3 separate regions of the Homo sapiens genome follow, and all the other regions are linked to region 1. The links come from fine-mapping of genetic effects on gene expression. A gene starts in region 1. Each other region holds a variant in brackets. All regions are shown on one strand. Distances are between the middles of the regions.

Region 1 (11,424 bases):
AAGTATTATTATGTCCCTTTTAAGGATGAGGGATCTGAGGCTTTGAAGGCTTTTGAACAAAGAGAGGGGGCTTTGGGGTCTAAACTCTCAGAAGTTACTCTGGCAGCAGCAAATGAGAAGAACAGATGAGAGAAGTGCTGGCACTTGGGGCTCCCTCAATTGCTAACATGTTGTGACATTTTGTCCCCCCAAATTGGTTAACAGGAGATAAAGAAGTGACCAGGATTTCTAAAACTAGACTGATCTTTTCAAAAGTTTTGCGGGCTGGGCAGGCTTTGAAGCAAATGGTCATTTAGGGAGTTAGAACCTTTTCCCCTCTGTGGCTCTTCCCAGCGTTTCCTGTGAAAAGCTTCCCCTCCAGGGACAACAGTGAAGAGTTCCACGGCGGTGTCTCTTGACCAGACATAGCAGAAAACAGACCTGGAGTAATGTAGTGAACCCAAATTAGCCTTTTTACAAGCTCATTAAAGCATAAAGTTTAACATCCTTTGCCCAAAATATAACAGAAAGAAGAAAGCCTCCTTTTTTCTCCCTACTCACTCACGCCTCCTTCCCCTCTTTCCACCATCTGTCTCCGGATAGGCAAGCATCAAAGCAGGATCTTGGATGGGTAGGTGTCTCCTTCACTGTCAAGTAAACACAATCAAAGTTCCTGGGAAATCCACTGTGGGCAACTCCAGTGACACTGTAGAATTCCAGGCAGGGGGCAGATGTGCACTCTGGTAGTCCTGAAGTCCACCAGCATCTTTCATGTTAAAATATTACTATATTTTAATGTGGTGTATAAAGAGTTGCTGACCTGAATTGCTGTTTCTTAGGAAGCAGACACATTAGCAAGTAGTATAATAACTAGGCTTTAAAAAATAGACTACCTTAAGGGAACAGACTATCTTCAATAACTGTATTTTACATTTTTGCATAGCACTTCTAAAACACTTTCAAATAAGCTTCTTCATTTAATCATTACCTTGAGATGCATGTATTACTATCCCCACTTTGCAGAAGAGGAAATTGGAGCTTAGAGACTCAGATTAGCTCTTTTGACTCCATCTAATTCTAAATTATCTATTTATTATTCTGAACCCCATGGCTTCTCCTTTGTGCTTTCCTTCAAGCTTATCAGTTGATATTGTGAGAATTTTCCCAGCTTGCCTTGTGGAGGGCCCCACCCAGGCAAGGGGGCGGTACTTAAAAGTTGTTCAGTTGCTAGTACTTAACAGAGTATCAGTGCCAGAAAGGGTTGTAGGGACCATTTCCAGCCTCCTTATTTTCTAAGAAAACTAAAATGAGGGAATCTCCTGCCTACATTCCCAGGGCTGGATCCCAAATCCCATTCATGGCAAAACTGTGACCAGGAGCTCCTGGTTCTCCTGTTTCCAACCCACAGTCTCACTCCACCACAGCCTTCACAGTCAAAACCAAGAGGAAAGTTAAGGTTCGGACTTGGCTAGTATCTGTTCCCATCCTGTCATTGCTTGATAACATGGAAAGATTCCATTAATTATGAGATCATAAAATATTAGGTGGAAGACAGCTTGGAGATAATCTGGTATAATCCTTTGTGTTCTGTACATGGGAAAAGTGAGGCCTAAGAAGGCGAGCAGAACCCCCCCGGCCCACCTTGCGGTTGGTGACCCTGAACTCAGCTGTGCTCCAACTGTCAAGTGCTGTTCGCTCAGCTTGTCAGAGACAGTGGGACTAAAAATTTCCAGACACAGGTACCTGACTCAGCCCTCGCTTTGCCTTGGCAGTGGAGATCAGGCATCAGCTGCTGGCTTGGATGATGTGTTCCCAGAGCAACATGGTGAGTGTGAGCTGCCAACATTGAAGTCTCAGGGAATGTAAAGTGTTGAACCAGTTAAACATCCAAAAATGCCCCGTCTCTCAGAAACAAGGGTGACTCATCACAGCGCTTGGGCTACAATTGGGAATGGCATTAGGGTGGCTGTGGCGGCTAAAAATCCATGCTTAGAAGCCCCCAGCTTCGTTTCCTCTGGCTTTTTGTTCGCAGGTCTTTTCTCTGGCTGAGAACCAACATACACATGCTCCACTGCCAAACCCAGCCCTCCTCCTCCATGAAGCCTGCCTTGACTCTTTCAGCCCAGAGGAGGTCTCCTTTCTCAAGCCCTGAGAATCTGCCCTGTGCAATTTGGCACTTGATTCCATACTGTCGTTCACTGTTTCTTAACCAGTGGAGCGTTTGTTTTATAACTGACATGGATTGCAAAATCTTTGAGGAGAGGCACTAAGCTTCCTCCTCTGTACCCTACAGTAAGTCTCAGGGTGTCACCACAGAGCAGAGACATGCTCAGACTCACAGATAGTCCTGACCTCAAGACTCTTTCTGCTTTACCTTATGTTTGCACATACAGCAAATGCCCAATAAATCCTCACTTGTTTCACCGTAGCTTCAGCCTTTTCAAATAAAGAGCTCAGTTGCAGGGCCTCTGTCAGCCCATGCAAATTAGAGAAAAGGCATCCCTCCCTCCAGGCAGACATAACCCTAACAGGTTGTGTGGCTGGGCAAGTGGGGCATGAGTTGGATTTCAGCCCCTTAGCTGGGTGCCCTCTGCAGCAAGCCACATAAGCCACCTGGGCTCTGGCTCTTCGTGAGAGCAGCAACAAGGACTCCCTCCCCACAGTGCTCCATTCTGATGGGGAAGGCCTACCTTGGGAAAGCTGGCATCAGATACTTCCCAGCTTGCTTCCCAGCTCATTTCCCATCAAAAACAAACAACAAAAAATCCACACCTGCCATAGCTCCTCACTGTGGAACCCAAGTCTATGCTCCCAGAAGAGCATTTGGAGACTCCCACAATACTGTCCCAGCCTTCTTTTCTTGTGCTGGGAAGACCCAGAACTCACCATGAATTGTCCTACGTCTCTGCTTTTGCTTTCTCCCAGCCTAGATTGCCCTTGTCCTGTTGATCTTTAAGTGAGATCTCTATTCCCCTTTAAAATCCGATCGCAAACCCTACCTCCTCCATGATGCCTCCATTAGCACTAATTGTTCTTGGTGCTTCTTCCCGCCCCATCCCTCTTTGCCTTCCACATTGCTTCAGCCTCTACTACCACCCTTTTCCTCCATGTTATTAGCATGTAACTCAGTCCACACAGCCTTCTCTGAACTCCTTCTGCAGCAACTCAGATGCATCATTTGGCTCCATCCTGATCCTAAAGGAATCCATTTGCAAGCAAACCGATGAACAATATTGACTTTACAAATGATTTCTTTCATAGGACCGGGGGCTTTCATAGCCCACCCCACAGCAAACTACTTACCAATCTTTGCAAGCATCTCCCCTGTCCAAATCCCTGGACAACTTGGCAACCCTGTTGCCTGTTCTCAGGCAAGTTGCTTGGCAACCCTGTCCTCAGAGCTCCTCCCCTCTCGTTACCCTTCCCCAATGTGCTCTCAACGAAGCTAAGGCTCCACACTCAGTCTCTGCATGTCTTCTTCATTTGTTCCATTCAATTTATTTCCTTCCTGTCCTAATAGGCAGAGCAACTCAATGTTGTCCTAACACCTATTTGCAAACATGTACCCCAAGTCCATTATGATGCTCAGCCAAACACAGGGTCTCCTTCAGTTTAGCCTTCTTTAGAAGGAGTCAAGAATAGACAGCCAGAATGTTTTTCTTGTGACATGTATGTGCATTTTCCTCCATTGAGCATGCAGTCAAAAAAAGCAAGGATTGTGTCTTCCACATCCATGCAACCTAGCAGAGTGAAAATATATACCAGAAACCTGTGCTCAGGGCTCCTCTCTTCCAGGGATGAGGACAGTTCTAAGCCCTTTCTGTCTCTCAGTTCTTCTTTCCTCCCAAGTAAGGCCCAGGACTGGAGTTACGGGGAAGCACCTGAAGACAGAGTAGGAGTTTAATAAATAGCTGTAAAATGAATGAGTCAGTGACTGAAGAGGAAAAAAAGAAAGGACAAGGAAGAACTTTGAAGGCACCCTCACCAAGATTATTTCAGCCTAGCTGAAGGAAACTTTGAGAAGCCACCCAGGGTGATAGAATGGATAAGACCCAGAGGATAAGAGGAGTCGCAAACACGGGGTTCTGGTATCAGCTCTGTCTTCATCACTGTGTGGAATCTTAAGGAGATCTCTCAGCTCTGTTTCTCATCTGTCTCACCAGCCTGCCTGCAGATAGCCTAGTATGGACACCACCCAACAGGGTCCTCAGGGCTGTTTGACATTCGTGTTTGAGGCTTCTTCCCCAAATGCACAGACACCCAGAGCCCCTCGGCGCCTCCACACTCTGCGGAAAGCTTTTCTTGGCTGCAGTGCTGGCCCGGGGACCTTCACTGCCCACTGGCAGAAAAGAATTCTCGGCTGTGGAAATGAGTAAACTCCACATATTTTAAAGATGACAGTCTAAACTCCTAATGACTCTAAATGTGGTGTGAAATGGACAGCAGTCATCTTGCTGTGTGACATGCCTGAAATAGTGTCACCACCACCATCACCCCCTCACGTGGACATGCACGTCATGGAAAGAGAAGCAACAAGTCATAGTGCCTTGGCTAATGTAGCTCCCCTATTCCCCCCGACCCCTCACCCCAGCGTCTTTTCTGTGCTCTTCTACATTTTAAAAAAAGAAGAGATCTATTTATTCTGCAGGAATACAGTCCAAGGTCACCTAAAAGCAAAGGAGAATGGGAATTAAACACACCCAGAGACCCGACCCATCCAACAGAGTCCAGCTCAGGCAGGCTGTGCCAGTCTCCACCAGGCTACGAGGGGAAAACCTTTTCGAGTTGAACTGCCACCAATCCACTGCCACCGAAGTCAAGGTTGTCAGAAATGACCCTCTGGACAGGGCTAGTGATTTGGATCCTAGAGATACTGAGTTCCTGGGAAACAAAGAGAACTTGTTGATTTTGTATTTTTATTTTTTCTTCGATTTGGTCGGGATATTACGGTAGCCTTGACCAGAGTTGAGAAAAGGAAACGCCCAGTCGGTATTTATTTGTCAAACAGTTGTCCTTTGCCTCCGGGGTCAGGGGCCCTCTGGTACCCACCACTGTTGCATCCTCTCCACACTCCTAAGCCTGTAACTCCTCCTCCCAAACCGAAGCCCTGTCAGTAAAAAGCGTCCTAATGATGCCCGCGCCCTAGTTGCACCAAAGGGGGTCAGGTTCCCATCGAGCGGATCCACATTCGTGTGTGCGCACGCGTGTGCATGTGTGGAAGCGCGTGTCTGTGTGTGCCGTGTGTGTACGCGCGCGCGCCGGTGTGTGTGGCGGGGGCGGGCTCTGCGCCCGGGGGCAGGGCTCCGCAGTGAGAGTGGCAGCTGGACTTGCCAGGCTGCGAGGGGCAGGGCACAGAGCCGCAGTGCCGTAGTAGCGGGCCACGGAGATAGACAGCTTTGGAGCTGCTGAACTCCGAGCACAGGGTGAAGACCCCGGCGCTACCAACCACAGCCTGGCAGCCTGGTCTCCGCGGCACCCACTGGGGCTGCATCCCCCTCCCCCGAGAGGGCTGCGCAGGCGGGAAGACGCCCAGAGGCCAGCTTCGGTCCCCCTTCTGTCTCTCGGTTCCTCTTTCCTCCCAAGTAAGGGAATAAACCGCGAAGAAGGAGCGCCCCGGGCCACCGCGCAACCAAGTGTTGCCTGGTGAGGTAAGACGGCGGCCGGCGCGGCGGAGGGGGTCCCCGGCTCAGGGAGCACCCGGTGCAGCAACTTGGTAAAGGAGGGCAAAGCGGGAGCCGGTCCCGCGGCCAGGGAAGGGGCTGCAGCCAAAGCCACGGCGCCCACCCCGACAGTTCCACCTGCCACAAAGCCCTGCAGGAAGGGATGCCCCGCTCGAGGGGTGCAGGCTTGGGGAACGCACAGGGTGGGGCTCGGCTCTCTCTGCGACTGAGAGGCCCCCTCAAGCCTCAAAGCTGTGCGGGTGGGAGGCGGCCTTGCTCCAGGCAGTTTGCTAAAGCAACTGGTCGGATTTCCTTCTTCTTCTGGACTTAACCTTGGCTCCTTGATATCCAGTTCGCGCTCCAGGCAGTCCGAGAAGCAGGAGATGCTTTTCCTAATGTCTGGCCGCCAAAGCCTCCGACCGTCCCGCGGGGTTCTAGGACTTTGGGGGCACTCCACAAAGCCCCTGCGCAGGGCGACTTAAAGGGAAGCTGAAGCGAACACGGACACCTCAGAGAATAAAGGAGGGAAGGGTCGAATCTGAGGTTGATCTGTGTAGTCTCAGAGTCACAAGATGTGTCCGTGTGTGTGCTTGTGTCCTGAGGAGTGCGTACCCGGAGTCACCTGTGGTGCTTTCGCAGACTCCACCGGTCCACCTCCCCTTGCCTAGTCTGAGATTTTCTTCGTTTGAACTAGTGGAATAGAATTAGGGGAGGGGGCTGTGGAGTTCTAAAAAGCCCTACAGGTGATTTGACGTGCTGCCCCCATCCCCACCATCACTGCAGTGGAAAGCTTGGGACTAGAGCTAGAACCACCTCCCAGATGGGAGGGATGAGCTGCGGAACTCAGGGTGGCGGTCGAGACCCCTCCCCCAGTCGCCCCCCGCGGCGGGAGCGTCTGCTGCAGCGCGAAGCGATCTGTGGCTGCGCCGCAGTGGTGCCCGGGAGCGCTGTGAACCCGTGGGCGCGCTCTCCCGCGCTGCGCCGCTGCCTCCTCGGACTTCATTAGCATACGATGACCTCTCTGTGGGGAGGAGGGCCTGGGAGGGCTGTTTGTCATTCCTTTATTTTGGGGGCTTGGCGACGACACTTTGGATCTGGAGGTGAACACCAGGGGTCATGATGAGAGACAGTGGTCAGGACACAGGACTGGAAACGACCCCTCTGGTCTGGATGGGGGAATCAACTTTGTTATTTTGGTGCTTGGGATTCTCTGTCTGTAAAATACAGCTGGCAGAGCCACTTGCTGGCACACAGGGCACCCTGGTTGTCAATGAAGGAAATTAGATCATAGAGGGCAAATGTCGAGGTTTGGTCATGAACCCAGGCACAGACACACACCCCTTTATATTTTATGTCCCTCTCACTCTCATTCCAGGCATGTGTCTAACATGGGAAGGTACTTAACTGTTTGTCATATTAAAAGACTACATTTGCTGGAGATTCCATTCCGAATATGAATTATACTCCTTAAATAAAACGGCTGCAACTAAGCCAACTTCCCGGTCGTACTCCTGATCTATGTCTTTTTTGCCAATCACCCTTAACGTTTACACCCAGCACTATAGGCATTACTACAGGTATTTTTCTGGGAGGGGCTTTAGGGTGGGAAGCTAGTAGATGAGTCTTTCCTACCTTAGAATTTTATGGAGTGGTTGGTTCAGATCAACCGAGACATGGGGAGAAAACGACAAACATCAGCGTGTCTTGAAATCTAGACTCTCAGAGATGGGAGTAACTACTAAGATCATCTGTTCCAGCTCCCCCAACTGCTCCAACTCCCCACACAACACCATCAACAGATGGTGAGGATCCCTCCAACCCGGACACTCCCAGAGGCCCAGGCTGTGCATGTGTGAGCCTCTGCGAGGAAAGAACCCAGAAGCCAGCAACTCTCCCCTCTCCTACTGATGGGAGTTGGTGGATGCTGGCCCCATCTCCTCCCCTGGAAGAGAAGGGGGAAAAGGGCGGGGAAGTACCTTTTCTTTGTGGTAAAACTTTAAAACTTTTAAAATGTATATCTTATTGTATTACATCATTATAATGTACTCTTTTAGTATAAAAGTAATTCATGTTCATTGCCTAAAAATTGGGAAGTTGAAAAGTATGCAAAGAACAAATCAATCACCCATGATCCTACCACTCCCATCCCACACTGTTAATATACTGGCATATTTCCTTTCCATCTGTTTTTATGCCTCGAAATTATACAATCCATAGAGAGCCAGCATTTATTGGGTGCCTAATAAGTATACTTTGCATGGTGTTAAATTTTATATTCATTATATCCTTTAATCCTCAGGAGTCCCTCTGAGGTGTTATTACTATCAATCCCATTTTTCTAGGGTTGCATTTTTCTAGGGTTCTAAGACTTCAGGTGACTTGCCCAAGTTACATAGCTAGTATGTGGCAGAATCAAGATTCAAACCCAGGCTGTCTGACTCAAAAGTATGGTTGCTGAGCCCCTGTAGCTATTGGTTCTCTGCTTTTTTCTGAATTAGTGTTGTAGCAAAAGACCTTCATGAACATTGTTTTCCTGGCTGCATATTATTACACTGTTAGTTATTTAAGTTGCTTCCTGTCTTTAGCAACTACAAATAACTCTGGGCAAAGTCTTTACTGCACACACTTCCCATTACTTCCTTTGGATAGATGCCTAGAAATAGATCACCAGGCCAAAGGGCATGAATGTTTTAAGGCTCACAGTATATATGAGAAGCCACTTTTCAAAAAGGGTACACTAATTTAGGATTCCATTCACCAGAAACAACTCGGCCATAGTTCAAGCAGATGACCTTTAGGAATCCAAATAGGCCAAGGCCTCACACGACCAAGCCACATCACACGAGCATTCTTCAGTCTCATGGAAGAAGGAATCACACATATCACCTTGCTTTATACACTCGGGAGGGATTATGGAAACCATACAACATAAAGCTATACCTATTTTTATGTGAGCAAGTATCAGCTGCAGAATTCTCTAGCTAAATGTCACATACTAACTTTGAACAAATCAAACCATCATGTAAAATATACAAATGTGTATAATGTCCCACTTCTCCATACAAGTCATTATAACAACATTCACTCTTGTGAACGTGCATCATGATCACAGCCAGGTTCAGCAAGCTTAACCCATCAGCAACAGCTTCCTCACATACTGGCCATATTCAAAGAGTTGTTTATTTGTACCAAGTATCAGAATTCCACACCCAACCATAGTGAGAGCTGATGTCACTTTATAAGTAACAGAGTTTGTCTGACTAAAAAAAAAAAAGAAATCAAGGCTAGTAACTATTAATAGTAATAAAACAATTTAAAAATAAAGTTATACCCATCATTTAAAAAAAATGTCCTCAGGTGGAAACAAAATGTGGCTGGCAGAAGAGAGATTGAATTAGGCAATACAAAACACACACACACACACACAAAGGGTTAGAAGAAAACAAACTGGCCCTAGCTATGAGTTGTTCCTAGAGCCTCGTTGATCTCCAAGCCACCTCTGCCACCAGCAGTGGGTTTAGTAGCCCTGGAATATAATCTGTTGTTGCTCCCACTCTGAGATCAATTTATGCAAGATTCAGCTCAGGTCCGGAAACATCCTTCAGGGAAGCCCACCCTAGAGATGTCCTGAATCCACAGCACCTGTGCGTAAGCTTACCTCGCTATGGCGAAGTCACTATTTGCATATCTCCCACTGAACTATGAGCCCCCTGAAGGCAGAGACCATGTCTAATCCTTTTCTGTATCCCCAGCACCTGAGATAGTGCCAATCCATAGTCAACAATTAAATGTGACGAATGAACGAATAAGAGAATTTTCCAGGTCCTGTACTGGATGCTTTACGTGCATTTCTCTTTCAGCATACCTTTATTCTGCTCAGGCTAGTCAGTCCCAGAAATATACCTGAAAGGTGTCTAGAGCTGTGCTGTCTGTTTTCACATGTGACTATTTCCTGTTTAACTTTAGTTCATTAAAATTAAATGAAATTTAAAATTCAGTTCCTCGGTCACACCAGTCACATTGCTAGTGCTTACATGCAGCATGTGATTTCTGGCTATCATATTGGAGAATGCACATTTAAAAGATTTCCATCATTGCAAAAAGTTTAACTGGACTGTGCTACAGTGTAAGCTTGGTGCAAGCAAAGTGTGTGTCTATGTCTGTCTCGTTTTCCACTGTATCCTCTGCACTAGCACAGTGCCTAGCCCCGAAGAGATGAGGGAGAGAAAGATAAAGGAGGGATGGTGGTAGTAAATGTTGTGGTAATATTAGCAATAGCACTTACTGGGCACCGACTCTGAGTCCCACATTGGGCTATGTTCTGTGCACGCATAGCTTCACCTGATATTCACATCACTACACTCCTGGTATTAACCCCATCTCACAGATAAGGAAACTGAGTCTCAGAAAGTTTCAGTAATTTGCCTATGGTCACAAAGCTGATAGGAGAGACTGAGATTGAAACTCAGGTCTATATGATTTCAAAGCCTTTTCTCTTTATTTATCTTCTCTTTTTTTCTTGGACCTTTTGCTTTACTGCCTCAATAACTGCTGTGTGTTGTGATGTGGATTAGGATTGCCACCATCTTGGCTTCCTGGGAAATCACAGAAAGGGGACTTTTGAAAGCTTTCCAAGAGAAACAATGGGTATAATTTATGACTCTGAATCACATATCAAGAGTGCAAAATTTTGCTCAGGGTCTTAAGAGAACCTGTCCCTGGATGGGTGAAGGAGGGAGAAAGGAACCCATCCATAGTGTGGCCTGACCTGATTTCAGCGTGTCTTGAAATCTAGACTCTCAGAGATGGGAGTAACTACTAAGATCATCTGTTCCAGCTCCCCCAACTGCTCCAACTCCCCACACAACACCATCAACAGATGGCGAGGATCCCTCCAACCTGGACACTCCCAGAGGCCCAGGCTGTGCATGCATGAGCCTCTGCGAGGAAAGAACCCAGAAGCCAGCAACTCTCCCCTCTCCTACTGATGGGAGTTGGTGGATGCTGGCCCCATCTCCTCCCCTGGAAGAGAAGGGGGAAAAGGGCGGGGAACCAAAAACCTACAAGAGCAGACCAGTCAACCACCATAGTCTGTGCTTCTCCTCAGGGAGTCCTGAACCAGCTCTTAAGATCTCGCAACCTATTAATGGGGTAACTTGGCTCTCAAATCCCTGGCCAACGCCCTTTTCACTGCTCCACCCTACCTCATGGGCCATTTGCTCCAGTGCCCTCACTATTATTATCATCACTCTTGTCCTAGTTTTCTCTAATTTCTTTATTCTTAAAGAATAAAGTGCAAAATTTCAAGGGAGTCCTAATCAGCATGGAGAAGACTGAAATTACCACCTCCTCATTCTATTTCCTATTTCTATTAAAACTCTTTAAGGTCTAATTAAGAATCTATACCATTGACACCTGTTGAGCTTAATATCAACTGAAGTAACCCAATTCTCTTTTAAACTTGCTCTTGAACTGCATTGCCCACCTGCTCGCCTTCACCCGATACTTGCCCACACCCCCTCACAGCCACTCTAGAGACTGTGCATTGTTTCTCATTTTATCTTGTTCAGTTCAGTCTGCCTCGCCAACTTGCCCAGATATTTCTGGCTGTGATTCTAGCATCCAGTGTATTTACCGGCCCTCTCAGCCAGCTTCCTGCCATCTCTGAATCTGATGAGCACGACCTCTTCATCTAAGTCATCAATAAAAATAATGAACACTATGGGATTCTGAGGCATTCCACTGTATGTTCCCTAAACATAGATATTAATTCAATAATTAAACA
Region 2 (9,887 bases), 120 kb after region 1:
TCCCATCTCCTGCCTTCAGAACAGAAGTCTCGCTTTGCCTTAATTATCATCAAGAAAGGGTTTACGCCTTAATAACCAAGAAAGGGTTTGAACCATCGTAGCCCTGGTTTCCCAAATTTAAATGAAGTCACTACTGATTGTAAATATGCTCAGGTCATTGCCTGACATAGAAGCTCCAGAGAGTGAAAGTGAATCTCGACTCTCTTTTTAATCCCCAGATAGAGAAACGTGGTCAGAGTCTTCACCCTCATTGCCTTTTTAAGACTTAGAAAAGGAGCTGCTCTACTCTCCCTTGCTACTTTGTGTATTTGCCAAGGGATTACATTGTCAAATTAGGGACCACGTGCTTCACTAATAATGTTTTAAAGGCTGGTCTTTGTAAAAAGCATCTTTGCAAAACCTAGTTATGGAAAAACCAAAGACAATCAGAACTGCATGGAAGGAGGGGGCCTGTACACATATCCCGGAGAATAAAAAAGCTGGGAGTCAATCAGCAGTATTGGGGGTAGGGGATAGCGAAGTACAAATTGTGCCAGGCAACATGTGATTGCTTTTTTCTTCCCCGCCCCCCTCCACTTTTTTTTTCCTGACAGACGAAAATTAGTGCTTCAAAGGAATAGAAGTAGATGGAATATTTTCTCGAATTTTAGAGAAGCATTTGACAAATGTCACATGAATCTTATTGAGGGTGTTCACTGAAATTTGCTCAGAGAGTGGGAGGTGGGTACAGTCTGGGAGCATGAAGTGCTGCTGCCCAGGGAAGCGGTGCAGGCTGGATAGGCCTCAGGGACAGAGGCCTCTCTGGGGTCCGCACATCTCACCCGTGCACCCATGGGGGTGCCTCTCCAAGACCTTAAACTCTTAATATATCTTAAGCTAAAAAATAAATTGGCCAGGCCTGGTGGCTCATGCCTGTAATCTCAGCACTTTGGGAGGCCAAGTTGGGCAGATCACCTGAGGCCAGGAGTTTTGAGACCAGCCTGGCCAACATGGTGAAACACTGTCTCTACTAAAAATACAAAAAATTAGCCCGACATGGTGGCGGATGCCTGTAATCCCAGCTACTCATGAGGCTGAAGCGGAAGAATCTCTGGAACCTGGGAGGTGAAGGTTGCAGTGAGACAAGATTGTGCCACTGCACTCCAGCTTGGGTGACAGAGTGAGACTCTATCTCAAAAAAAAAAAAAAACATCAATAGCTAAAGTTTAAATTTTAAACTCTCAAAACATCATTTTAGCAAAGAATGTTTGCCAATCACAAAATAAGCCCATCTTCTCCTCTTGCCCTGCCACCTTTCAGATGTGGGCTGCTGGACTCCTATGCCAGGTGCACCTCACCACACAGAGTTCATGCTCAAAAAGCTTCTTCATAGAACTATACCTCTTGATGCTTAAAAACACACACAGAGGCCAGGTGCAGTGGCTCACATTTACAGTCCCAGTACTTTGGGAGGCCGAGGCGGGCAGATCACCTGAGGTTCGAGACCAGCCTGGCCAACATGGCGAAGACCCGTCTCTACTAAAAATACAAAAATTAGCCCGGTGTGATGGTAGGCACCTGCAATCCCAGCTACTCAGGAGGCTGAGCCAGAAGAATTGCCTGAACCTGGGAGGCAGAGGTTGCAGTGAGACGAGATCATGCCACTGCACTCCAGCCTGGGCGACAAGAGCAAAACTCCATCTCAAAAAAAAAAAAAAAAAACACAGAAATTTTCATATAAGAAATAGAATTAATATGCATTTGATGAAAATTCAAAATTCACTGCATGGAATTTCAAGTGTTTTGTAGCCATGTATTCCAGTAAATGGGTTTGTATATTTTTCATTGCAAAACAAATCTAGTCAACTCCCTGGTTTCTGTGTCACCCCCCATCTCCGGCTCAATTAGCCTGTTTATTTCTGAAGCCCAGCACCTGCACCCAAAGTACCAGTATGGGGCCTGAGCGGTGAAGGGGCGTTACACATTCTTCTGCTGGAAAATGAGACCATTGTCGAGGGTGGAAGACCGAGTTTGAGGAGGAAAGACAAGTTCCGTTTCAGGTTTGAGGCTTAGGGTTGGCTCTAGAGATTGACACTTTGGAGCTATCATCATTCAGATGCTGGTAACAGCCACGAGAACTCACGAGATGGCCACGGTGTGGAGTGGGGGCCGCAGGTAGAACCCAGGGTTAGGGAGTTGTGGTCAGAGGATGGAGAGCCCAGGAGCACAGTGCATGACAGCCATCCTAACTGTGAGTGCTGGAGTGCAGGGGGCCGCTAGTGTGGCAAAGGGATGTGCTAATAGGAGGGCAGTGTCCACATGATGTAATAATGACTCTTATTGGCCTTGGAGGGAGTCCTTCGAGTGAAGTGATCAAGAAGCAGAAGCCAGAGTTTAATTTTGTTTTATTATCTAGTAAGCATGTTATCCAGTGCCACTAATTATTTCTATTGGTGTGGATGGTTAAGACTTAATATCTAATAGCATCTACCAATGTCAGGTTTCTGGTTTTGACAATATCCTATAGTTATATAAAATGTTATCATTGGGGGAAGCTGAGTGAACGGGACCTAGGAACTCTATGCTATTTTTGCAACTTAATTGTGAGTCAAAATATTCCAAAATAAAAACTATTTTAAAAAGAACTAGTATGGAAAGTCATTTCCAGAGACTCATGCTCAGCCCCAGACACAGGCTCCTGATCTCTAACTGCTCACAGACTCTCAGTCTCCCCAGAGGGCAAAGGCTTTCCCCTTCACTCACCCCTGAACTATCTATCTGTTCTCAGCGGGTCCGGGCTAGAGTGAAATAGCAAGGACTCCAGAGTCAACTGGCATAGGCTGTAAGAGTATTGGTGGTGCTAGCTCATCCCCCTGGAGGCAGTGTTGAGCCTCTGTTGGCTCCGCGGATGTGACCTGGAGCCCCACCATGCGATAGATAGAGTCCCAGGGTTGGCATGACTCAGCGAGTGCATGCGTGCGTCCCTTCCCTCCGCACTGCACTGTCATGACCACTCACCAAGGATCTGCTTTGTCTCTTTCACTTTCAGGACGCTTCCATTGCACACAGATTCCATGTGATGAGAGAGAAACATCCTGAAAAATTCAACAGCAGGTAAGCTGCAGGCCCGGCTGCGCTGCCACCCACCCAGTGTGGCCCTGGCGGAACAGAGGCCTTTCACCTGCTCTCTGGAAATTTTCCCAGCCAGGGCCGCTGGGGACTTGGCCTTCC[TGC/C]CACTTGCCGGAAGGAGGGTTTCCATTTCCAAGAAAAAAAAAAGTGTCAGAAACTTGGCGCAGGCTAACTGCCTGTCCTCTCCCAAAGGATCTGTGCAGAGGGCAGGGCTGGAGGGCAGGAGGTGGGTATGAAGGGCCTGCTTTTGCAGGGGAGGAGGTGGGAGGGCGTCTGCCCTTGTCTAACTGGAACCCCCGTCCTGAGTCTCTGCTGCTTCCAAGTACAGCGCCTCCAACCCCAGCCCCTCATGATTCTTTTGGGGAAGAGCAGGGAGGCTGGAAGAGACCCTAGCTTCTGTCGGTCTCAAATGGGAGGAGGTGGCAGCTCCGGGACTTGGACCAGGAGGACCAGAAGGGTGTCTCCTTTGCCTCCCCCGACAGCAGAGGGCAGCAGCAGAGAGGTACCTGCAAAGGCTGGAGACCCGGAACCCACTAAGTCCCAGCCTCAGCCTGGGCACTCTGTGAAGTCACCAAGTTAGGTTCAAAAATGAAAGGAAAGAGGAAACCAGATCATTTGCAAGAGAAAGCAAACCCTTCTTCCTTGTAGGATGAAATTTGCCAGAACTTAGTTGTGACTGACGTATAGCTACCCCTTTCTCCCTCTTTCCTTCTTTGTCTGTATCTTCTCATTAGTCAATTTTCATTCTTTCTTTCTTTTTCTTTGTTGTACTATTTCAAGATGACCACTATTTCAGACACTGTTCCCACCCCAACCCTAGGTAGGTTGGGAGAAGAATGGATAATGATTTGGACTTTGTTTTTGAGCCTAAAGGTGTTGACTTTTATTTAGCCCACAGAATTGTCTTTTTATTTATTTATTTATTTATTTATTTTTGAGATGGAATCTCACTCTGTCACCCAGGCCAGAGTGCAGTGGCGTGATCTTGTCTCACTGCAACCTCCTCCTCCCAGGTTCAAGCGATTCTCCTGCCTCAGCCTCCTGAGTAGCTGGGACTACAGGCGTGCACCATCATGCCTGGCTAACTTTTGTATTTTTAGTAGAGATGGGGTTTCACTATGTTCACCAGGCTGGTCTCAAACTCCTGACCTCAAGTGACCCGTCCTCCTCGGCCTCCCAAAGTGCTGGGATTACAAGCAAGAATTGTCCTTAAAAGAGAGGTTAGAGTGTTCATTGAAGACATTCATTTAAAGCCCAGGACCCATCATTTTCATCACTGGCCATTTTCATTCCTACTCTTTGTCCTGACCCCACAGCCTGAGAAGTCAACCAAGAAGAAGGAGGTCTTTTTAGAGGTCAGAAACTGAACACTATAGCTTCAGAAAGAGCGATCTGTGGGATCCGATAGCAGCTGAACGAACCTTTTAGGAAGTGCATCCTGCCACAGCATCTTCTTGCTCTCACACACACAGACTATACACACTCACTGCACACTAGGAACACGTGTACTTCCAGCCCCTGATACTATAGTCACAAACTTACAGTTCAGATGATCTCCTCTAACGGTCTTTTGCACTCCCAGATACACACAAACCACTTTTTTAAAAAGTACTCCTCTTCAACCCATTCCTCAGGCTTTTAAGGTCCTCTTTTCACACAAGTATCTTTTTTTTTTTTTTTTCATGGAGTTTCGCTCTGTTGCTCAGCCTGGAGTGCAGTGGCGCGATCTTGGCTCACTGCAACTTCCACCTCCTGGGTTCAAACAATTCTTCCGTCTCAGCCTCCCAAGTAGCTGGGATTACAGGCACCCACTACCACACCCAGCTGATTTTTGTATTTTTAGTAGAGACAGTGTTTCACCATGTTGGCCAGGCTGGTCTCGAACTCCTGACCTCAAGTGAGCCACCCACCTCAGGCTCCCAAAGTGCTGGGATTACAGACTTGAGCCACTGCACCCGGCCTCACACAAGTATCCTTATACGTACTCATGCACATGTGCCATATGCTTGTGAAAGCCACGGGGCTCTGTTCATTCATTCATCCATTCATTCAGCAGATCTTTTGAAAACGTAATGCACACCAGACACTGTTCTACAGGCATTTTGGACAGACGCATGTAGGGGACTCACAGCCTGGTGCTGGAAACAGGCTGGAAAGCAGATGTGCAGAATGGTTTGTGTTAAGTGATGTAACTGGAGGTGACCTATGGGAGCAAAAACCAAGGACACGAAACGTGGCATGGAGGGTTTTCCAATGACAGAGACGCCTGAACCAAGACACGGAAAAAGAGGAGGGCAACACAGGGAGAAGGAAGCAAATGTACGAAAAGATACGAAGGAGTGAGAGGGTGCAGTATACTTGTGGAAGAGCAAGATGTTCAGTGTGATCAGTTGTATGGTCTCGGCAGAGGAAAGAAACCAAACATCTGTAATTCCCAGAAAGCAAGGAAGCAGAGGGAGGGAGAAATTTCTCCATATGCCAAAAATCAATAGGCAGGCCAACATATGACATAAATAGAGCAATCATCCATCACCCACATGATTAAGTACAATTAGAAAGACACATCCGTCAGAAAAAAAAAAAAAAAAAGATTGTAGCGTGCATTTTAATGCAAAGTATGAACAAATTCACTGTGATCTGTAGAACTGTTTTTCCTTCTCCCTTCCGAGATCCTATAAACAATACTTCTCTCTGAGGGTAGGTTCTCAGCTCACTCTTCACCTGACTGAGGTCAAGGTAGCATGGATGACATGGTGACAGGCCCACGGATTTGCACGTAAACCTGCGTGCTCGCCTAACAAACGAAGACAGAAGGGCTGAGGTAGCACCTATTTCACAAGGTCACCGAACGCTTCCTATGAAGAACTTTGCATACATACTGCTTCTACCCTGCCTATTCGCCCATGTCTAAAATACCCAGGAGTGCCCAATTTGTCCACTGAGAGGCAGGCAAGCAGCCATTTTCTTCAGGCTTCCTTATTTAGCATTGGAGATGGTTTTAAATAGGCAGGTGGTTGTTGCCATGGTTACCCCATTACACCAGCGGCTAAACTTAGGAAAGGCCGCAAGGCATAGGAAGAAAGCTTGATACCCAGGATTTGGAAATGTAAACGGCATTATCAAACAAGGCCTATTTTACTCAGCTGAACTGAGGTTCTCCAAAGAGTAGTTACTGCTTGGCCGGAAGCCTTTACCATTACTGCCCAGGTTTGGACTCTCAGGGATAATCTTGAGGTTAAATCTTGGGAGTTGTCATTGCTGTGTTTTGTTCTGTTTTGTTTTGTTTTCAGCAAGGGAGAGTGACTAGTCAGGTCCGGAACACTTACCAGGAAACCGGAATCATTCACGTTGCTGATTCCCTTTTCTTGGCTATTCTAACAAGAATTCTTAACCTGGGATCCAAGGGCTTCAGGGGTTTTGAGAACACCTTGAAATTGTACTAAGGTACTGAATGTATTTTTCTGCAGAGAATGTCCATAACTATCAGAAGATTCTTAAAGGAACCTATACTCCCAAAATGTTTAAAAGTCACAGGTCTGAGGCCTCTTTGAATCCTAAGAGGCATCAAATTATGACTCAAATGTTGGGGTTTCAGGAAATTCTTCCTCCATGGCCTCTCTAGATGGGTTGTTGCCAGGGAAGATAGTGGGTTCCAGAAAACCAAGTTATGTTCTCTGATGGAATAGTTTCATTAATGGAGCAAGAACCAGAACCGAGGAGGCAGGAATACGAGCCATGTATGATGGGCAAAAAAGAAAAGGCCTTTAACGGCAGAGATGGGGTTATTTTTGGCCCTGTCTACCTCCTAGTTATCAATAGGCTAATCATTAATTGCTAATTGAGGAATGTTAGGGAGATTATCGTCTCACTGTTGGCATAAAGAACAAAAGAGAAATTTGATTCAACTGAGATTCTAAAGTGTTTGAAAGTGATCTGGAATAAAGGGCACATAAGATGTGGCCCCTGCCTTCAAGGAAATCGTCGTCTAGCAAAAGAAAAGGAAAAATAGTGCTCAAGTATTCTTTACAAAATTATTTTAACATACAAGGTGGTTACATTTCATAGGTGATATAGTATACAGGAAGTCGTATAATATGTAAGAACTTATTAATGGTCATATCCCAAACATCATTTGCAAATGGATTGTTTTCTTTTTGGGGGATGTTTTTGGTCTTTTTTTTTTTTTTTTTTTTTTTAGAAAGAGTCATTCTGTCACCTGGCCTGGAGTGCAGTGGTGTGATCTTGGCTCACTGCAACCTTTGCCTCTCAGGTTCAGGTGATTTTCCTACACAGCCTCCTGAGTAGGTGGGATTAAAGGCACACACCACCACGCCTGGCTAACTTTTCTTCCTATTTTTAGTAGAGATGGGGTTTCACCATGTCAGCAAGCCTGGTCTTGAACTCCTGACCTCAAGTGATTTGCCTGCCATGGCCTCCGAAAGTGCTGGGATTACAGGTGTGAGCCACCACTCCTGGCCAAATTGGTTGTTTTAGGTGTAGCAATAGTGTTAAAGGGGAACCTGACTAAGAACTGTTTTCATTTTTTTAGCTCCTCCTAGATGCCAAGTGGTGAACTAGGGTCTTTAAATACATTAAATTATTTAAATCACAAAACAACCTTTCAAGATAAATATTAGCATTCCCATTTACAGATAAAGGAACTGACACTGGAAGAAACCAAGTCAACTAACAAAAGTCATGTATTTTTTAGGCAGTGGGGCTAATTTAATTTCTGACCTAGCTCTTCACTCCAGAGTCCAAGCTCTGTTTGCCGCAACTGCTGTCTCACATAGATTTCATTGAGCAAGCACTGATGTATACCAGACACTCTGATAAGTACTTTATACATCATCCCACTCATTGCTCACAATAACATGCAAGGGTAAGTGCTACTGTCCCCATTTTAGAAATGAAGGAACTGAGGCTAAGGAGGATGGAGCTGTCATTGGCATCATCTGCCTTTATGGATTGTCTCTGTGGGAAAATGCCTGCTGAGTTCCAAAGGGGAGGAGAACAGGTACACCATCCAGTCATACCTTGTATGGTGTGAGCATTCTCCCTGTTTCCACGTCCACAGCAAGGAGCAGGACTGGCTGTATGATCTGTGTGACCCAGTGCAAAATTAAAAATGTGAGGCCCCTTCCTCAAAAATGGGACAGCAAAGCATTAAACTAAGCACTGAGCCCTCTTAAGTGTGGGGCCCTGGAGTCCACATCTCACACCTATGAGGTGGCCCTGGCAAGGACAGAGGAATTAATAAAAAGAAGACACTTTTGCCAGTAGTCACAGAGTAGGGTGTTTGCAATAAAGTCAAAAGAATGGAGGAAAGAGGGTTTCAACTTAGGGAGAAGGAGAGGGACTCTCAGTCCCACAAACAGGCAGCAATCAGTACTAGCAGAGGAGCCAAGAATCCCGTCAAAGTCTTCCAGATAGCCAAAAACCAGCCCACCATGAAGTTTCCAGATTAAGTCTCCATGAAGGGTTTTGCATATGAAATCTATACATAAAAGCCACCTAATTCTAATGTCACTGTCAGTGAGTGTCTAGAAAGAGAAGTCTAACTGTGGAATGTTTTCATTGTTGGTTAGAAACTCAGAGTACTTGCGGAATGTGTTATTCTAAACCTGTTGAGTGTATCCACTTGACCGCGTCTCTCAGCAGTTGAGGCTGAAGCAAGTTATTTCCTGTTAGGCCCTTCAGAGGGACCGAAGCAGTGCTTCATTCCTACTAGAAGCTGACCACCTTTCTCAAAAGCCCTTGACTAATTAACAGGTTCTGAAATATTAGCTTTCTTGGAGCAGGTCCCATGGAGTCACTGATGAGGGGCTCCCCAGAAGCCCTAATGTAGCTTGAGTTTTTAAGAGGTTGGAAATATACCTTGTAAATAACTAAGCACTTAGTAACTATTTATAGAAGAAGGCAGCAGGGTATAGAGTAAGTTGGCATCAAAACTTGGCTTTGCCGCTTATTAGCTATGTGACCTTGGGCAAGTTAATCTTCTTAATCCTTTGCTGCCTCTTTTGAAAATCTTGCAATGTTGCTATAAGTATTTAGTGACATAATACCTAAGTTCATAGTACACAGGAGGTTCGCAATAAACATTTGTTGTTGAATATCATTGAATAACAAGCATTGCCTTAAATTGACGATAAAGTATTGACAATAAAAGGGTTGTTTTTAATGGAGTGACAAATTGGATTCAGTTATCACAGAATCAATGCTCCATTGACATGGCCTTTAACCTGAAAAGTTGGAGGACAACTAAAAGTTGGAGGAGACCCCAGCAGTGATGCATTGAATCTGCCCAAATCCTTCTCCTGGGGGTGGGAATATGGCACCACTTTGGTTGGTTTGGATTCTACAGGACAGAAGCTCTAGAGGAAATCCCCTTCACTGGCTCCATGGAAGTCCAAGAGGCAGAGGTTGGGGATCTGGACACTAGAGATTCGAAGTCCAGTGCCAAATCCAGGCTAGCAGGATCAAGGGAGGGGGTCATAGACCCCAGGTGAAATGGCCTCAGGAGGAACAGGGCAGGAGTGAGTAAAGGAGAGTGGCAGGACAGATTCCATGTGCTCCCTGGGTGCTTCTGGCTTACTAGCAGGGGTCATGGACTGCATGGCAGGTAGGCAAGTGGCCCTGTGGTCAGATGCTGGGGATGTGACTAACCCTCCCTCACGGATACTTCTTTCCCCTCACCCACCACGTACCTCTCCCCAACCCTGACCTCAGATAAAGACAGAGATGTTCTGTGGGGAACAAAATAGAAACCGACAAAGCTC
Region 3 (11,424 bases), 64 kb before region 1:
CTGTTTGATATTACTTAGGGACAGAGAGTTCAAAATGAGGGCACAAAAAATGTGAGAGCCAAGATAGAGACAATTTTTACAAAGCTTCAAATGAACAGATAAATGTACAACAATAAAATTTAGGGACTTCCTGTAGTCACTTGGAAATTTCTGCTCACAGCCTGCCACCTTTTTCCCCACTACAACAGCTTTTGCTGCTCGGTGTGGTGCCTCATGCCTATAACCGCAGCTATTCAGGAGACTGTGGTGGGAGGATCATTTGAGGCCAGGAGTCTGAGACAAGCCTGGGCAACATAGTGAGATCCTGCCTCAAAAAACATAAATTAATAAGTTATATGGCTACTTTATTTTAAAATAAAATATGTATATTATCTTCCTCAAGTTGTTTAAGCTAATTGACTGCTCTTCACTTACCATTTGAACCACCTATTTTACTCTACAGCATGTTTTCACTTTGACCAAAAATAAAATCATTAGGGGAATAGACATATTAAGGTCACAGAAGTCTCAACAATAAAATAGGTACTGCTGAGAGCAGAGATAAGGAGAGAAGTAGAAACCAGTTTCTTATTCCTCAGCATATCTCTAGAAACTGCCATCTCTGTATTACTAGCAGCTTATCCAAATCCCCAGTGTCAATAAACAGGATGAGGATTCCGTCTTTGGATGGCTGGCAAATGAAAAATATGCTCTTGTGTTTTAAAGTGAGTGTCAAAAGTGATATACGAGGGGAGCCCGGAGTCCCTTTTCTGTCTCCATGGAGGTATGTGGCAAGTCCTCTCCTAAGTGAGAAGCCAAACTTAAGCCAAACCTCCCTAGGCACACTCCAAGGAAATACCAGGGCCAGAATTAAGGCTGCCCGAGAGGAGGACCTGCAGGAGCCAGGGGCTTACTCAGGAGCAAATCCTTTGCCTTCGTGGGGAAGGAAAGCGATTCACCTAAAAACACTGTAAAACTCTGAACACAAGGATTGATTCACTTTGTCTACCAAACCCTTCATTTTGGGTGGCTAGGAACAGTATAAATTGAGTACCTTTATGCATTCTTACCGAGCAAAGCTTTGTGGAAGATACAAAGGTGACCTCTGTTCCCAAGAAATCAGACATCGCAAACTCAGATGCTTGCAAGAGTCAGAGAGGTAACATGACTGAGTGAAGAGACCAGATCCGTTATAAGAAACCTGAGAATGGCCACTGCCATTCAGCCTCAGAGTCCAGGAGACAGCAGCAACTGAAGCAGCTGGGCACCTGGAGACCCCACGTCTCTTTCAAAAGGTGCAGCCACCACTCAGATCCAGAAGGTTATTTCCATGAAGGCCCAGTATTGCCAGATGTTACGATTTGTGAAGAAAATCCAGAAATGTAGGTTTTTATTCAAAATGGCCCTTTTTTTTTTTTTTTGTCACAGAGTCTCACTCTGTCACCCAGGCTGGAGTGCAGTGGTGTCATCTCGGCTCACTGCAACCTCCGCCTCCCAGGTTCAAGCAATTCTCCTGCCTCGGCCTCCTGAGTAGCTGGGACTACAGGCGCATGCCACCACGCCTGGCTAATTTTTTGTATTTTTAGTAGAGACGGGGTTTCACCATGTTAGCCAGGCTCGTCTCGAACTACTGGCTTCAAGTGATCCTCCCGCCTTGGCCTCCCAAAGTGCTGGGATTACAGGTGTGAGCCACCACACCTGGCCAAAAAGGCCCTATTTTTAAAGATTGGTAAGTGACTATTTTTTCCAAATTCTGTGCCCTTCTAACTCTGTGAGCCAAAAAAGACATCTCTGTGGGCTGGACTCAGTCCTTGGGCTTCCGGCTTCCGGCATGCACCTGGATCCTAGACTTGTAGTTCACACTACTCCAAAGATTTCAGGGGGCAAATTGGGTTTTGGAACATCCATAAAATTGAAGAGCAACTGTTTACCTCCAAACAACTCCCAGAGCCAGGAGGAAACTTAGAGTTCAAGTTTAACTTTTAAGTTTAAGTTTCTCATTTTACAAAAGTGGAAACTGAAGTCCAGAGGCAGTAAAAAAGGTAATTAAGGCCCTGCTCAAGGCGAGGTTTTTGTCAGCCTGCTGAGAGCCACCATATATATTTGGAAAACAAGTGAGGCAGTAAAGGCATTTAACTGGCCACCCTCTTTCTTGCCACATGCTAGTGAGGCCACGCCTCAGGCTCCTGGAATGCAGCTTTTGTGCCTAGGCTGTTTCTAGGTGGGTGCCCTGGGCCTGAGAACCTTGTTTGCCCCTGAGCCCACTAGAAATGTTTTACAGCCCTGTCGGGGACAGTGGGGTTGGGGGTGTCGGTGGGTTGGGGGGGTCGGTGGGGTGGGGGGGGTCGGTGGGGTTGGGGGGCGGGGTTGGGTTAAATGTGAGGATAACATTTTGATTCATGACAAAATGAGACCAGTCCAGAGAGGGGGTTATAAAGGGTCTGAATAGCTCCCTCCAGGTTTTTGAGCAAATTAGCATTCAACAGTGATTTAAGAGCTAGGGAGGTCTCCCTCTACCTCCAAGGAGACTTGTCTTTACTTTCCATCCCCTGGGAGTTTCTGAAGGCAAGAAAAGGCCACTTCTGCCACCAGACCACTAGTCTGCCTTTGTTTGGCCATGCCTAAGAGAAGAACAACTTTCAGCTTCGTAATGTGGATATATTTTTTAAATTGCATTAGGAAGTTGTAAAGTAATGAAATACTCCATGTAGAAAAATCTGAAATATAAATAAAAGCATATAGAAGGAAAAATAACTATAATTGAACAATCCAGAAACAATCTGGTATCATATTTATTTATTTATTTTTATTTTTTGAGATGGAGTCTCACTCTTGTCGTCCAGGCTGAAGTCCAACGGCACAATCTCTGCTCACTGCAACCTCTGCCTCCTGGTCCAAGCAATTCTCCTGCCTCAGGCTCCTGAGTAGCTGGGGATTACAGGCACCCACCACCATGCCTGGCTAATTTTTTTATTTTTAGTAGAGACGAGGTTTCACCATGTTGGCCAGGCTGGTCTCAAACTCCTGACCTCAGGTGATCCTCTTGCCTCGGCCTCCCAAAGTGCTGAGATTACAGTGTGAGCCAGCACACTTGGTCCATATTTATATTGGATGTACATATACAATTATATACATGTAACATGTGGCAAGATGTAATATTTATATACATATACTTTATAATTTTAAACATTAAGATTTTATTTATACTGTTTGGTAAACTGTTTTCTACTTTATTGTGAGTATTTTTATACATTTTAATTATTATTCTTTTTTTATAGCTTTACAACATCCCAAAACATTGAATATCAGACTTTATTTTGGTGGTTCCTTTGAGGGGATCAAAGACTGCTTAACTAGGAAGTTTCTCATAAAATTTAATGCCAGAGTCCTGAATCTTTTCCTGAAAAAAAAAATAAATAAAATAACTGCTTTTGCTATCTCCCAAAGCCTGGTAATAGTGAGGTAGAGTCTCTTAAGTGGAGAGAGGAGAGATGGACACAGATTTAAACCACAACACCTTCCTGGGATACTCACTAAGTAATTTTCAAAAATCGGTTGGTCCCCTCACTGGGATACTTGGCCTGAAACACTCACACTGAACCGAGAAAATAGCCTAAAGTTAGGGTGACGTGGCTGGGACTCTGGCTGCCATTACCCAACACAGCACACCAACCCATTGACACTGACACTAAAAAATGGGAATTCCTAATGCAAAAAGTTGAAGAGGATGTTGCTGGCCCTGTGCCACTCTTCCCTTGCACACGGCCTCTCCCAATAGAACTCCTGTCGACAGGCGTGCTTTGCAAAGCCTCATCTTGATATTGGCAGAACAATCATTCTGAACCTGATCCTGAACACCGACTGTTTGTTTCTGTGTAGAGACTGCCGGTGTCCTCCTGGCTGCAGGTCCACAGAGTGAACAGGGCCTTCTCCAGAGGCAGCCGGGTCCTTACCAGAAAGAGTCCACAGCAGACCCAGGACAAAAAGATTGTCTTTCAGGTAAGAAGCACAGTAAACACAGGACACCTTCCTGCAAGGGAGGGTCATTGCCTTTGAGGATTCACTGACTTTGGTTTTCCTGCAAAAGGCCACTTATCTTCATTCTTCCCCTGCCCCCTTCCCCAGCTGCAGAAGCTATTTTTAAATCACCCTAGCAACTGGAGGACACAGGCGAGGCCTCCTGTGATGCTTCAGTCACCAGAGACTGAGCAGGAGGGTGCTGGGAGAGTGTGGCTGCCCTGCCAGGAACCGCAGTCTGCTTCTCTTTCGCCTGGCAGAAAGGCGTCCTCATAGTACATACAGACCCAAGTTCCTCACCTCACCTCTGCCTTTGTTCCTAACCTTGCCATTGTCAGTTTGTACTGAGATGACTTCTCAGACTTTAGCTCCCAGGGAAAACTGTGTGGGCTGAGAAACCTCTGAGGTACTTCTGTGCTGGGCAGGTTGCAGGCAGGGCTGGTGGTAGAAGTGGCCCACCCCCAGTGCAGTAAATAAAAGCATACATAGTCTCTAGAGAATTTTTTGTTTTGTTTTGTTTTAGATGGAGTCTCACCCTAATGCCCAGGCTGGAGGGCAGTGGTGCCATCTCGGCTCACTGCAACCTCTGCCTCCCTGGATCAAGCGATTCTCCTGCCTCAGCCTCCAGAGTAGTTGGGACTACAGGCGCCCGCCACCATGCCGAGTTAATTGTTGTATTTTTAGTAGAGACGGGGTTTCACCATGTTGGCCAGGCTGGTCTCGAACTTCTGACCTCAAGTGATCTGTCCACTTCAGCCTCCCAAAATGCTGGGATTACAGGCGTGAGCCACCACGCCTGGCCTAGAGAGTTTAAAATCAATAATGAAACTGACTTAAAGCGGACTTACTCTTTCCTACATCATGGGGCAGCAGTTCCTTTGTCAGTGATCAATACTCCTCTATGGTCCCCTCCCTGTGTGCCTGCTGCTTTGGTGGCTATCCTGCTGGGAAGCTAAGACATTCCTCAGCTCAATCACTTCTATCCAGTCCTTTGTGCTGGAGCTTGACTATTAGAAACAGAGACCTCCCTGGCTGCATGGACAATTGCAACCATGCACCTGAAATGCAAAGTGTCTACTGTTTGAGGAACTCTTCCTTCCAAGCCCAGAAAAAAGTGAATTACTGTGAACTGGCCCCCAAAAGGCCTTCTCCCACCCCTCGTGATAAGCCTACTCACAGAGATTCACTCCTCCAGGTCCTGAATGGAATGTGTCCTTCATAATTCCTCTCCAAAAGGAATTACCACTTGAGCCAAAAGCACTCATCCCTCAGAGGG[G/T]GTTAGATTGACCACTGGAGGGCAAAGGGAGGTGAAAGGAAGATGGAAGAAGTAGTCACAAAAAATTTTCATTTGCTTACAAGTTTGGCCTGGGACCTATCTGTGCGTATTTTTGGCTCTGAGACCAAATATGTAAACACAATAAACATATGCCAAATGAAGGAAATCTTATTGCATGGTCAAATTTCATGCCATGCCCCGAAGGGATATTTTGTAAGTGCAGTGAGTTCCGAGGATACACAGGCATTTGCTAAATTGGGGCCTTTGGTGGCATTTACTCTTTAAAGGAATTATTTGCTCTTTCTGCATTTTTATACTACCCCATCTGGAACTTTTCCCTTAACCTCCCTTATAAGTCCCTCAGTTGAGTTAAATTCTCTCTTACTTTGGTAAAAGCACCATTCACACTGAGGTGCGTAAGACGCAGGAGTTCAGGACCTTGGCAGTCTGAAAATACACTTGTGGTTTGGATTAATATTCTCTTTTTCTGTTTTTAATCCTCTTGCATATTTACGTAAGACTTTTCCCCTCTGGGGTTCCTGTTGCTTCTTAGCTGTGATCTGTTCCTCCCAGCTTCTCCTAGAGGCAGTAAATGGGTATTGCCATGCCATTCAGGACCAAGGAGGATCCTTCTTCATGTAGTGAGTCCAGGAGGCTTCAGCACTAACAGCCCCTCACTCCCCATCCCCAGGCAACCTTGAGCTAGTCTCTTCTTCCATCTCTACCCAACTTCCTTGCCATCCTGCACTAAGTTACTTTAATAACTCTCTGGCTTAGTCAGCAGTGTCGCTTACGACCATTGCCTGAGAACAGATAGGATACTTTCACAATCAGTGTAGTCCAGGCACCAATCAGTCAGAATGAACATTCTAGAGCTGCAGCAGTGACCTTCGGGGCCAGGCATTCACCCTGGCGGGAGTGGGCAGAGGTCTGGGGAGTCCCAGTTGAGGAGCTGGGGCAAATGGGATAGCTGGTAGCATTCCGGTGGTTCAGATAGCAGTTCTTTTCCAAGGAATACAGAAATACTTAATCATTTTTAACAACTGGGGCAGTTTTGGCTGTGTGTATTGCCCTACCAAAGAATAAAGCTTGGGATTATTATTAGATATCCCTTGAGTGAGGACAAAGGTAATTTACTCAATTCGTTTGCTGCCTTTATGCAGATTGTGAGCAAGTTGGGAGTCTTGCATAAATTTTCCTTCAAAGAGGTTGAGAGCAGCCTTTCTCTTCTCTCTGAAGTTCGCCCTAAAAGTCATGCCTATTCTCCTTGTGTCTTCTTTAGTTGACCCCAGGTTGCACCTGGTTGTATCATGCCCCCCTCCCCCAACCCCCTGTCTCTTCCTTCTCTTTTCTAGGAGTTCAAGCAGCTTACCGAGGCTTAAAATAGACAGTAATAGCAGCTCTCAGTTTGTTATTTTGTATGTACTCCGTATCCTTAACACTTGTCAAGGATAAAAACACACTCAAGAAACACACTTTGCTTTCAGTAACTTCATTTTTCAGAGAAAAAAAAGTAGACGGAGTCAGCTCTCAAGACAGCTGTAGCTGTATATGCAGGTATAGCACTACAGAAAACCAGCCAAGCAGAACCACAGAGGCGTGACCCACCAAAGACTGAGCTCTGCCTCCTCCTGCGCAGCCATGGCCACCACTGACCGAGCACTGCCCAACACCTGATCTTTGTTTGTTTTGAGATGGAGTTTCGCTCTTGTTGCCCAGGCTGGAGTGCAGTGGCGCGATCTCGGCTCACCGCATCCTGGGTTCAAGCGATTCCCCTGCCTCAGCCTCCCGAATAGTTGGGACTACAGGCTCGTGCCACCACACCCGGCTAATTTTTTTTTTTTTTTTTTTTTTTTGTATTTTTAGTAGAGGCGAGGTTTCACCATGTTGGCCAGGCTTGTCTTGAACTCCTGACCTCAGGTGATCCACCCACCTCGGCCTCCCAGAGTGCTGGGATTACAGGCATGAGCCACCACGCCCGGCCCAACCACCGGATATTTATGCCCGTCTGGGACCCTCAGAGCTTTCTCAAAGGGATTCCCAAAATAACTCATTTTAACACTTGGTTTTTGGCCACTCATTCCTTAAGCCTAATTCCGCTAATCACAGTTACTTCACAAGAACCTAAATATGCACTGGGTTACCTCTGTTGTACGTTTCAAGTGATCATGCCACCAAACTTTGCATCCAGTGTCTTCTGTTGTTCGTGTGGTCATATCAGTCTAATTTTACTTTTATTGTTAGTTGCCTGACGTAGGACGTTATTTTAGATTCTGCGTGAGATTGTAACGTTCACTTATATGCTTGTTGTAACTATCTAAATATTTCAGTGGAGTAAAAAGGCTGATTGGCACAGGAATGTCCAGCTGATGAACAGGTCATTTAGGATTTCCTTTCTCTGGACAGACAGTCAGAACCACTGTTGGAAGGGGAGGCACCACCTTGGGAGCTGATTGTTCTTTTTGTCAGATGGTTGGCCTGGGAAAAGTAAATCTGCAGAAAGCTGTTTCCTCCTAATGTAAATTCTAAACTTGACATTAGATAGCTGCTCCAACAGTATGAGATTCCCCAGAACTCAGCATAAAACTTACTACCTTTTATGATCTGTTGAATGTGAAAGAAAATTTGTTTGGCTATTGGTTTCGAGACCAAGATGACAAACAGCCCTCCCATGATATTACCCTGAAAACATTTGATTCCTTTCAGTCAGTGGATAATCGAACCCAAAAGGTTATTAGCTAATTCTTATAGAAAATTGTTCAAGTTATCATTCTTGGTCTCTTCTTGAGGTAATGAAATTCATAGCTGTAGAAAGTATTGTGTTTTTAAGCTTCACTGGTCTTTCTTTATTTTCTGGCATTTTGCAAACATCAGTTTGTTCTCTTCTGAAGGTTAACACTTTTATAGCTGATCATATTCCATGTCAAGCCTTTCAATTTCTAGACTGGGCCCATTTTTTTAAACCCTGGAATCATGTGGCAGCATTTCTACCCTCTGACATAAATCCTTTAACTCAATTGTGTCTTCCTTAACATTCAGCAGCCAGGATTTGGCTCACAGCTTCCTAGTCTGGAGGCCCCCATGGTTTTTATAATGAGAGGATAGTGTTTCTGATTCATATTTCATTCAAAGTAACCCACATCCCATTAGGGGTAATTGATGTTGCCCAGCCTGTTTTACTGTTTTTGGCTATCACACTCTCTAGAGTCTAGAGGCAACATCTTTTGTGAATATGGTGACTCTCAAGTCACTGCCCTTTGTCTTAACTGGTCCTTTAGTTGCCTATCACCCTATAAACATAATTTGGTTTACCTAAAACACTCAGCTTTATAAGATTATACAAGAGCTTGTTCCCACTGAATTGACATTCACAAACTAGAGATATTTAGTATCAGTTTTATTTGTTTCTGCATGACAAAATATTCTGAGGCCAATCTCTGTTCTTTTTACCTCCTCATTCAGAAAAATTACCCTTTTATTTTCATGCCTTTTATTTCCTGTTTCTTAGGCATGTCCCTGGCCATAATGGAGGAAAACTGAGTTATCATTAATATAAGGGAAACACTGTGACAGACTTTTCACAGATCTTGTTACAGGGTTTTGAAAATATCAGTAATGTCTAATAATTCATTTTCTCATGAGTGCTCCTTACCCCTCAAAAAAATATGGTGTGTGGCCAGGAATGGTGGCTCACGCCTATAATCCCAGTACTTTGGGAAGCCAAGGCAGGTGGATCACTTGAGCTCAGGAGTTCGTGACCAGCCTGGACAACATGGTGAAACTTTTTCTCTACAAAAAAAATACAAAAAGTTTGCCAGGTGTGGTGGTGCATCTGTGGTCCTAGCTACCCGGGAGGCTAAGGTGGGAGGATTAATTGAGCCCAGGAGGTCAAGGCTGCAGTGAGCTGTGAACGCACCATTGCACTCCAGCCTGGGTGACAGAGCAAGACCCTGTTTCAAGTATATGTATGTATGTATGTATGTGTGTATATATATATATATACACACATACATGTATATATATATATATATATATATATATATATATATATATATGTATATAGTGTGTAAGTCTGGTTTTAATTTTAACTTATGAGCAATATCCTTTCATTCCTTTAACACCCATAGATTTGCCTAAGCACTCAATAATTATATCTTTCTGTCTAGCATCCATCAACTCACCTAATATGACTGTAGCTTCCTATGTTTCAGTAGCATAGCACCAAACTTCCACATTCTTGCATTTTTTATTCCTGAAAGAAACACATAGATTACCTGGTCCAAGTTTTTCACTTTATAGATGTGATAACTGAGGCCCAGAATGCTGAAGTGACTTGATTGAAGCTGCAGACTGAGTTGTCTCCAAGACCAAGTTTCTCACCAACTCTCCAGCATTTCAATATGACCATTTAGATTTTCAGGTGCCTGTCATTTATAAGTAAGCATTCAAACATTCTGACTTGGCATTTCTGCCAAATCCCTCAGAGGCCAGTTGTCCAAAGGGTTGGGCCAGTTACTCAGTTACCTCCATTTTTAGCCTACCATATAGCTTCTTCCTAAATAGTCTAGTAGGTTCTTGACATGAATCATGAAATGATTCAGATTCTATTCTTGGGCAGAACATATGCAGCTTGTTACTCTCTGCATCATAGTATAGTTATATACTATTGACATGTATTTCTCCTACACTAGACAGTAAACACCTTAAGGCAGTGATTCTTCATGATTAGTATCTTAGATTGTAGCAGGTACTTGAGAAATCTTTGAATAACTGAATGAATGAAAGACCCACCAGGGACACATTGGTAACCACATTGTAATGAACTATATGTACATTTAACTGTCCAGTAAACCCAAGTACAGGTCATTCAAATGGTTTTGGCAACTGACATCCAAATGTAAAAAAGAGAAATGTGATCCATGCCTGGTATTATATACAAAACTCAACTCAAAATGAATCAGATCTAAGTGTAAAACTTAAAACAACAAAATTTTTAAAAGAAAACATAGGAGAAAATCTTTATGGCTATAGGTGAGATGAAGATTTCTTAGCTATAACACCAAAAGTATAGAAAAAATAATAAATTAAACCTTTTCAAAGTTGAAACATCTGCTCTTCAAAAGATACTGTCAAGAGAATGAAAAAACAAGGTCGGGCATGGTGGCTCATGCCTGTAATCCCAGCACTTTGGGAGGCTGAGACAGGCAGATCATCTGAGGTCAGGAGTTTGAGACAAGCCTGGCCAATGTGGTGAAACCCCATCTCTACTAAAAATACAAGAATTAGCCAGGCATGGTGGTGGGCACCTGTAGTCCCAGCTACTCAGGAGACTAAGGCAGGAGAATTGCTTGAACCTGGGAAGCAGAGGTTGTTGCAGTGAGCCAAGATGGGGCCACTGCACTCCAGACTGGGTAACAGAGTGAGACTTCATCTCAAACACACACACACACACACACACACACACACAAAATGACAAAACAACAAGAAAAGACAAGCACACAACAGAGGAAAATATTTATAAAACACATATCTGATAAGTCCTTAATACAAAGAACTCTCCAAACAATAATAATAAAGCAAACAATCCAATTTTTCAAATTGGCCAATTTCAGGAGACTCTTCAGAAAAGAAGATATGTTGGTGGGAAGTAAGTACATGAAAATATGTCAACATCATTAGTTATGAGGGAAATGCAAGTGAAATGCATTTGAAAAACCATGAGCCGGGTGTGTAGGTCTATTAGAATGACTAAAAACAACAATAAATGCTGGCAAAGATGTTGAGCAACTGTGACTCTCATCCATTCCTGGTGGGAATGCAAAATGGTATAGCCACTTTTGAAAACCATTTGACAGTTTTACAAAGTTCAACAGACACTTACCACACAATGCAGCAATCCTACTCATAAGCGTCAAGAAAGAGAAGGAAACTTTATGTTTATACAGTAACCTGGAATAGGATGTTTATAGTAGCTTTATTCACAATCATCAAAAACTGGAAACAATGTTCTTCAACCAGTGAATGGATAAACAAACTCTAGTTCATCCACACAATACAATACTAATCAGAAACTTTTAAAAAAGTATTGACACACACAACAAAGTAGACGAATCTCGAGTTGAATTATGGTAAGCGAAAGCAGGCAGATCCAA

Which allele goes with the higher level. Positions count from the first base shown, and alleles are read on the strand shown. Sizes are in standard deviations (SD) of each study's normalised expression. Not every link is listed here.
As copies of TGC replace C in region 2, the expression in monocytes after LPS of the gene that starts at base 5,339 in region 1 goes up (moderate effect, 0.65 SD a copy in Quach 2016).

The links.
Region 2: its variant is fine-mapped to the expression of DGKG in monocytes after LPS (Quach 2016, PIP 0.95). The same link has a PIP of 0.9 or more in monocytes after Pam3CSK4 and monocytes after R848.
Region 3: its variant is fine-mapped to the expression of DGKG in atrial appendage (GTEx, PIP above 0.99).

What each region holds. Positions count from the first base shown.
Region 1 is chr3:186,356,149-186,367,572 of GRCh38, reverse strand. It overlaps DGKG (diacylglycerol kinase gamma), which reads left to right and starts at 5,339. Exons shown (of 25, transcript NM_001346.3): 1 at 5,339-5,627. RefSeq lists a silencer at 5,180-5,269 and an enhancer at 6,054-6,571.
Region 2 is chr3:186,235,710-186,245,596 of GRCh38, reverse strand. It overlaps DGKG (diacylglycerol kinase gamma), which reads left to right. Exons shown (of 25, transcript NM_001346.3): 20 at 3,029-3,093. Among named protein-coding and RNA genes, the nearest start is that of DGKG, 120 kb to the left of the region's middle. RefSeq lists an enhancer at 3,294-3,343. The variant TGC/C (reference allele first, on the strand shown) is at 3,211.
Region 3 is chr3:186,420,554-186,431,977 of GRCh38, reverse strand. No RefSeq gene overlaps it. Among named protein-coding and RNA genes, the nearest start is that of LINC02020, 14 kb to the left of the region's middle. RefSeq lists a silencer at 6,959-7,048. The variant G/T (reference allele first, on the strand shown) is at 5,273.